Homo sapiens: one gene and its partner. The protein of the gene in region 2 interacts with the protein of the main gene of each other region in a biochemical or structural test. Each region holds a gene or a part of one and is shown on either strand. Other genes may lie near its edges.

The links. The genes of interacting proteins can lie anywhere in the genome.
Region 1: the proteins of LNPEP (region 2) and TNKS2 form a complex in vitro, tested with the Homo sapiens proteins (4 studies listed by BioGRID and IntAct, with this or other methods).

What each region holds. Positions count from the first base shown.
Region 1 is NC_000010.11:91,836,280-91,840,029, reverse strand, and holds part of TNKS2 (poly [ADP-ribose] polymerase tankyrase-2), read right to left. Parts: exon of another isoform or gene 3,377-3,750; coding exon of another isoform or gene 3,146-3,376; intron 3,112-3,145; coding exon 3,032-3,111; intron 1-3,031. UniProt on the Homo sapiens protein: Poly-ADP-ribosyltransferase involved in various processes such as Wnt signaling pathway, telomere length and vesicle trafficking.
Region 2 is NC_000005.10:96,973,953-96,977,702, reverse strand, and holds part of LNPEP (leucyl-cystinyl aminopeptidase), read right to left. Parts: intron 1-3,750. UniProt on the Homo sapiens protein: Release of an N-terminal amino acid, cleaves before cysteine, leucine as well as other amino acids. Degrades peptide hormones such as oxytocin, vasopressin and angiotensin III, and plays a role in maintaining homeostasis during pregnancy.

The sequences.
Region 1 (3,750 bases), on a different chromosome or scaffold from region 2:
TAACGCTCAAGGGTAAATTTTATCATTACCGCTACTATATATATATACAGGTAAACTAAGTGCCAATCATCAGCAAGTGTAACTTGCATTTTGTGGCAAATATACATAGAGGTACATGAGATTACGGTAGTACCAGCATTACCAAGGAGCTTATTAAGAATTCAGAATCTCAGATCTCTATCTACTGAGTCAGAATTTGCCCTTTAACAAGATCCCTAGGTAATATGGAAACACATTAAAGTTTGAAAAGTACTCCTTTAGAGCAGTGGTTCTCAAACTTTAATGTGCATTGGGTCCAACCCTCAAATTTTCAGTGTAACTGGTGTGGAGCCTAAAAATCTCCACTTCTAACAAGTTCTTGGGTGATGCTGATGCTGGTGGTTCAGTAACCATACCACTCCATGTGGAATGAAATAACTAATAGAATGCTGATGGTTAGGCTGAACGTGGTGGCTCATGCCTGTAATCACAGCACTTTGGGAGGCTGAGGCGGGCAGATCACTTGAGGTCAGGAGTTTGAGACCATCCTGGCCAACATGGCAAAACCCTGTCTCTACTACTTGGGAGGGTCAAGCAGGAGAATCGCTTGAACCTGGGAGGCAGACGTTGCAGTGAGTTGAGATCGTGCCATCACACTCCAGCGTGGGTGACCAACCCAGACTCCATCTCCAAAAAAGAAAAAAGGAAAAAAAAATGCTGATGGTTTATACAGTCCTGGGGAGAATTAAGAAAACAGTCAATTTTCTGTGCTCTTTGGTTCAGAGGAGGAAGTGTAGTTATGAAAAGTATGAAAGTTTGGGGAAGAAAAGCAACATAGATAATAAATCAGAGTGCTTAAAGAGTCAAAAGAATATATCTATCTTAGGCCGGGCACGGTGGCTCACGCCTGTAATCCCAGCACGTTGGGAGGCCAGGCGGGTGGATCACCTGAGGTCAGGAGTTCGAGACCAGCCTGGCCAACATGGTGAAACCGTCTCTACTAAAAATACAAAAAATTATCTGGGCGTGGTGGCGGGCGCCTGTAATGCCAGCTACTCGGGAGGCTGAGGAAAGAGAATTGCTTGAACCCGGGAGGTGGAGGTTGCTGTGAGCCGAGATCGTGCAATTGCACTCCAGCCTGGGCAACAAGAGTGAAACTCCATCTCAAACAAACAAACAAACAAAAAGAATATATCCATATTAGTAAAAACTCTTTCCCCCTTTTTACTAACCTACTCCCAAAACAGGGATAACCTAAGCTCAATAAAATAAAGGAGCCTACTATCAGTGGGTTTACCTCAAGGGGTTTAATCATTGTCCTGGTAAAAAGCTCTTCTGTGCTTCCCAAATAAGATCTGGCTAGATATACAGATTCAGGGCCCCATTCAAGAGATGGTATTTCAGTGGGTCTCAAGTCAGGTTCCTAGAAATGACTATTTTTAACACGTGTACCAGGTGCTGCTTGGTTTGGTAGTTATCACAGGCCATTCTACTCTTTACCTGTCAGTTTAATTTTGTCCACTCTGAGATAGGTTTTCTAATAGCATGTGTCGAATAAAGTATCCAGCCTGGTGGATTATCAGTGAACAAACACAACTGAGCACAATAGTTAAGTGTTCATTAGGTAATACGCAGATGTTCTTGTCCCAGTGATTCGTACAGAGCCATCTGTCTGGAGGTAGATAAGAAGAATGGCTGATGGAGATAAATGTCCATCAAGTGATTTTAAAAGCAGAGGGGAGGGAAGAAAGCCTGATGCCTAGCACAGGTTTTCCTGAATCCAATGGCATTACTGTGTTCCCTAAGTCCATTTCCTGCCCCCCAACTTCATCTCCTCTTTATCTATCCCCTCCTCTGGACTCCCTCTATCTTTATAAAAACAAAGTTTAGTCTTTAACATGTTTACTAAATATAGTTTTATGTTCTTTAATATATGTAAGAGAATGAGCATTTACAATTCTGTATCTCTCCCTTCCCACAAACAGCAAAAAAAAAAAAAAAAAAAAAAAAAAAATCAGCTAATTGCTTTCAACTCAATTTTCATGTTTCCTGAAAAAAAAATCAGTTCACAACCTTTTAACTGAAGTAATTTGTATTTCCACAAGTCAGTAGTAATAGAAACAAAATCCTCCTTTCGATATCCTATTAGCCTCCTACTTAAGGGAATGAGAATAATGAGGATCAAAATAAAAACATGTCAAATAATAAAACTGCATGATAGTTGCATTTTTCTGTGAGAAATGAATTTAGAAAACAAATCTGAAGTTATCTGAGATGTCTATACTGTCTCAGCCTCCCAAGTACCTGGGATTACAGGTGCATCCCACTACGCCCAGCTAATTTTTGTGTCTTTAGTAGAGACGGGGTTTCGCCATGTTGGCCAGGCTGGTCTGAAACTCCTAACCTCAGGTGATCCACCCGCCTCAGCCTCACGAAGTGCTGGGATTACCGACAGGTGTGAGCCACTGGGCCCAGTTTTACATACATATTTCTACAGCAAGAGTCAAAACAGTAAGAAGGGTTACTCTGGGGAAGACTCTTGTCGGAGAAACAGGTAAGACCTGAAGTTGCAAGCCCTGGGAAAGAGAAGTGGCAACATTGTATTTATTATTATACTAAGCCCTGGATCCCTAGAGGTAGATGGGGTGAAGAAATGAAGAAATCAGAAGAAATCTATAGACAGAAGTGATACACTGTTTTTCCCCTTTCTTGTTTTATGTGTCATACGTAAACAGTAATATAAAATAATTTGATAAACTTTATTCTGTTAAAGGGACAAATGAATAGGTTCTTCAAGCAAAACCCATTTGGTATTACCCGAATTTATTTATATTTGTGAATGTAATATTCACTGGGATGCAGGTGAAAGTGAAGTCTTTCTCTTTCATTACTTAAAGCTACTCATTTGTAGAGAACAATTAAGATTGTATTATTGACCTTTTAAGGCAAGGCCCATACAAATAAACCAGGCTCTTCATTGTAACAGTACAGATTAAATAACAATGTCAAAATAAAAACCCAAAGTTAACAGAAACGTAACACTGTATCTTACTTTTACAGTTTCGACATCTCCAGCCTTTGCAGCTTCCAGCAATTGTCTGTCTGCCTCTGAATTACCTAATGAGATACCCTCTAAAAAAGAGAGAGAGAGAGAAGAGTGACTAACCTCTATTTGGAAGATGGAACCAAGCTTTATGGAAGGCATCTCATCAGAAAGCAAAGTTCTTTTACAATTTGGTAGATTATGTACGAGATCTCCATGGTAGTAAGGGGGGTGAGGGTTGGGGAGTGAAAAATAAGATTCTCTTAAAACTCTTTGAAATACAACACATATAAGCAAAATATGTAAATGTGTATAATGATTATAAAATGTGATGTAAGCAATATAAAGGAACATAAAGGAGATGACTAAAGATGGCCTGCTCTATAAGCAAGCCATTGGAATGGTGCAAAAGTATTAAATTAAGAGAGCAAACAGAAATCTAACTGTGGTTCTGTCATTAATTAGCTATCTGAACTGGAACAAGTCACTGGAACTTCCTGGTTCTCAGATTTTTTCAGTTCTAAAGACATAAGGTAGACTAGTAGAAATGTAACATCATTTCCAGGTCTGAAATTCTAAGTTTACAGCTCATTTAAAGTGTCAGAAAAGGAAAACATCTACCTTGCACCTTAGAACAAAGTAAACTCCAGATGGATTAAAGATGTAAGTATGAAAAATTAAACCCTAAAAATACTAGAAGAAAACGGGGGAATATTTTCATAACATGG
Region 2 (3,750 bases):
GGTGGAAACTCTTCATCCATAAAACATATTATTGATAAATATTAGGATAAAATTTGCAGTTTTGCTGTTCAGTGTGGCCTGTGACCCTGCAGCATTTGCATCACATTGCAGCTTGTTAGAAACGCAGCCTCTGAAGTCTCCACCTAGAATACGAATTTTAACAAATCCTCGGGTGCTCACGTGCACTTAAGTTTGAGAGGCACTGGTATAAGCATCTTCCATGGTCAGATCCCAGCCAGCACTAAATACCATTCCTGAGTATGCTCTGGCCATCCCAAACTGCTTACTATTTTGAGCACAGGCCAGGCAGCTATTCCACGCTATCCTCCACATGTCTCTTTTTCTTTTCTCTTCCCTCTGCTTGCAGTGTCATCATCTCCCTTTCCCATGCCCATCCACCTGGTATTCCGTACCTCAGCTTAACTTGCTACAACACAAATTAAGAAAAGTTATGTTTTTTTGTTTTTCCTTTGTCTTTATTACCTTTAAAAAATAAACTTTCTTTTCATTTCACTTCACCCATTTCTGCTTTGGGGAGCATATGGATCACAATGAGGTTACCTTTTCCTGACTCCTCTCCAACCTGAACTGTATACAAGTTATGCTACTTTAAAATTTTTATTTGAATAAAACTTCTAATCATTTTCTAGGTATGAGTTTAGCATTCTGCCATCTACCCATCTACTATGAAAGAAGAAGGGTTCTAACATACTGCTTTTGGGAATATAATCTCCTAAACTTCCTATAGTGCCCCAATTTCTTGTTAAAAAAAAAAAGTATGTTCTGTTTTGATAGTTAATAGTGTTTTGGGTCATACACTTCATTAACAGAGCAAATATTGCTGTATTCAATTTTTTAAAATTGCTTTTAAAACTCTTAATGATTAGAAAGTTTCTGTAGTAGTTTTTTGGTTCCTGGCACACTGCTGTAGACTAGCTTAATTTTTTTTTTTAATTTAAAAATGTCTAAAAAGGCCTTTTTTGACTTTTTTACCACACATGGGAAGATTATGCTCTCAGGCATTTGCCCCATGTGTTTTGTTCTGTGTCAGGCCTACTGCAGACAACAATGGGTTCTGTACAGCATGGTTTTATTTACTATATTTCTGAACTAACTCCAGGTACAATCTCAGCTTAATATTTAGAGCATTCCAATCTCTCAATTCTGTCCCCTTAGAACTTTGTTGCTGTGTTTTTTTATTCTTCTGCCATGCCATTTAAAGCCAAGAGATATTCTACAGTTTGACAATTTGGTATCTCCTGTCTGCATGTCATTAATTTCAAATCTTCTGACAAGGGCTTAGTCAGATGCCTGCCTAAATCCAAATAACTTACTTTTATTATTTCACTCCCAGTCAGAATAATACCAACGTAGAATTTTAATCTTTCAGAAATGGAGATCACATCAACCCATTTGCTATATTTCACTGTGCAATATAGAAGCACAGTTTTTTTTTTGTATGCACAATCATATCAAGTTAAATATATCAAATCAGGGAAAATCACTTTTATTACAGGTATCCCATGAAGATACATGAAGGTACTTCAAGCCTATTTAAGAAAATGTTGATTTGATTCTTAAGTCAGTACACTTTGATTTTGGCATTAAATTGTAACATAACACATGATTACCCCTTGCTCGATGGGATTTATTCCTACTGAAAGAAGGGATCCTAAAGAAACAGGGAATTTTCTAAAACCTCTTAAATCCACATATAGAAGCTATCTATAAGTCAAAGCAAAGAACCTTCTACTGAAATGTTTCAGTTTTAAATAACATAGGCCCATGTGGTTATAATCTAAGAGAACTGAAGACATTTCTTTTCATCAGATACTGTGAACTAGCATTCCTCAATGTTGTTTGTGGACCAGTGCCAATGTGCAAAAGTGTGACCCATCTGGGACAGGATATACATAGACTATTAGTACCCAAAAACTTTTATGACAATTTGACAGAGTAATTTTTATGTGTATTGAATTTAATAATGTATAAAACTGAGCTATTTTTGTATGTCTTTTTTCATTTCATTTTTCTAATTAATTTTTTTATATGCTACAAAATTTCTGCAACAGATTAAAAATTAAAAAAACAGAAACAATAAACCCTGGTTCTTCAGCTCAGATAATGTGAGAAGCAGTGAGTTAGACTGTCACTATAATGGCAATAACAGTCAAGATAAAGTTCTTAACTATGTCAGTAGCAGTGAGAATAAAGAGGAGGGTATGATTACAAGTCACGTCAAAAAGGTAGATGCACAAGAACTGATACTACCTCGGGCTAGATGGACCTGCAGGGTAGGAGACAGAGAAAAGTCTATGTCAATTCCCTTTACATTCCAACTTGTATAACTGAAAAGAAGGAATGTCATTCACTGAGATTGAGAATATAGTCTTTCACATTTTCTAATTTTTTTTGAGGCAAGGAAGGAGAACAGGATTATGAGATGGCATTCAGTGTAGGATATATCTGTCAGATAACCAGGTGGAGATGTTTGATTAATAGAGTTAAAGGCCTGATTTTAGGTAGACGTTAAAATCCTGGCTTTTCCACTGACTTCAAACAGGTTACCTTTCTTAGCCTCAATTTCCTCACCTATAAATGTGGGAAACAGTGCTATTTTGTAGAATTGTTAAAAGGATTATGTTACGTGGGTTTAGAGCTCAAGAGAGTGATCTGGGTGGAAGATTCAGGTTTCCGAATCACCTGTGCAGATATGGTCATTAAAACCATGCAGATAAATGAGACTATCGAAAGGGAGACTCAGGGAGGATCAGCATTTAAGAGCTGGGTGGCCAGAGGAAGAAGGTCAGCAAAGGAGAAGAAATGGACCAAAGGTAGGAAAATCAGGAGTGGCATCCCAGAAACCTAAAGCTTTCATAAAGATGAAAGTGGCCAGCATTAAATATTTTAGAAAGGTCAAGTAAAATGAGGCCTAGAGAGACCCTTACATTTGGTAACCAGGGAACCAGTGACTTTAATAGTGAGAGTAGAAGCCTGATTCCAGGGGCCCAAAGAAGAAATGGAAAGTTAACAAAAGAAAACAAGGACTGCAGACTATTCTTTGAAGGTATGTAGTAGTTTATCAAGGAAAAAACATAGGGATAAACTAAAGGAAAATGTGGTATAGACAAAACTTAAATCCTTTTGTTTTTCATTTGTCTGTGTTTAAGATGGGAACAACTTGGGCATGTATTTCTGCAGGAAAGGAACAGTAAAGAAAGACAAAATGTGGAGGTGAAGGAGTAGGGGAGGGAAAATGCTGGCGTAGCATCCAGAGGGACAGGGAGAGTGTACAAGAAAATGATGGGAGCTAGGTGCTCTCCCTCCAAGCCTGGAGGACAGGAGGTAAAGACAGAGAAGAGGCATGTGCATGGGCACAAAACAGCAGAGAGCCTTCATGTTCTCTGTGACAAGTGCAAGCAAAGACATCTGCCCAGAGCTAAAGGCAAGTTGTTGGGAAGGCATAGGGGCTTGAGCAGAATGAGGGACAGGTGCCATAGGAGAGGGCCAAGGAGTGGTGACCCCAAGACAAGCATGACTGAGAAGGTCAGAAACCCCAGTGGAATTTGTCATACCACAAATCTCTAAAAAACATCTTCAGCACTTCTTACCAGCCCAGGTCTAAAAGAAGAGAAGTGTTATGTGTATTTTACCACAATAAAAGTTAAACAAAATGTTTATAAAAGGTAGAGAAAGCAGAGGTAGGAGACAGAGACAGGGTTAAACATATAGGGAGGATGTGGTGAGAAG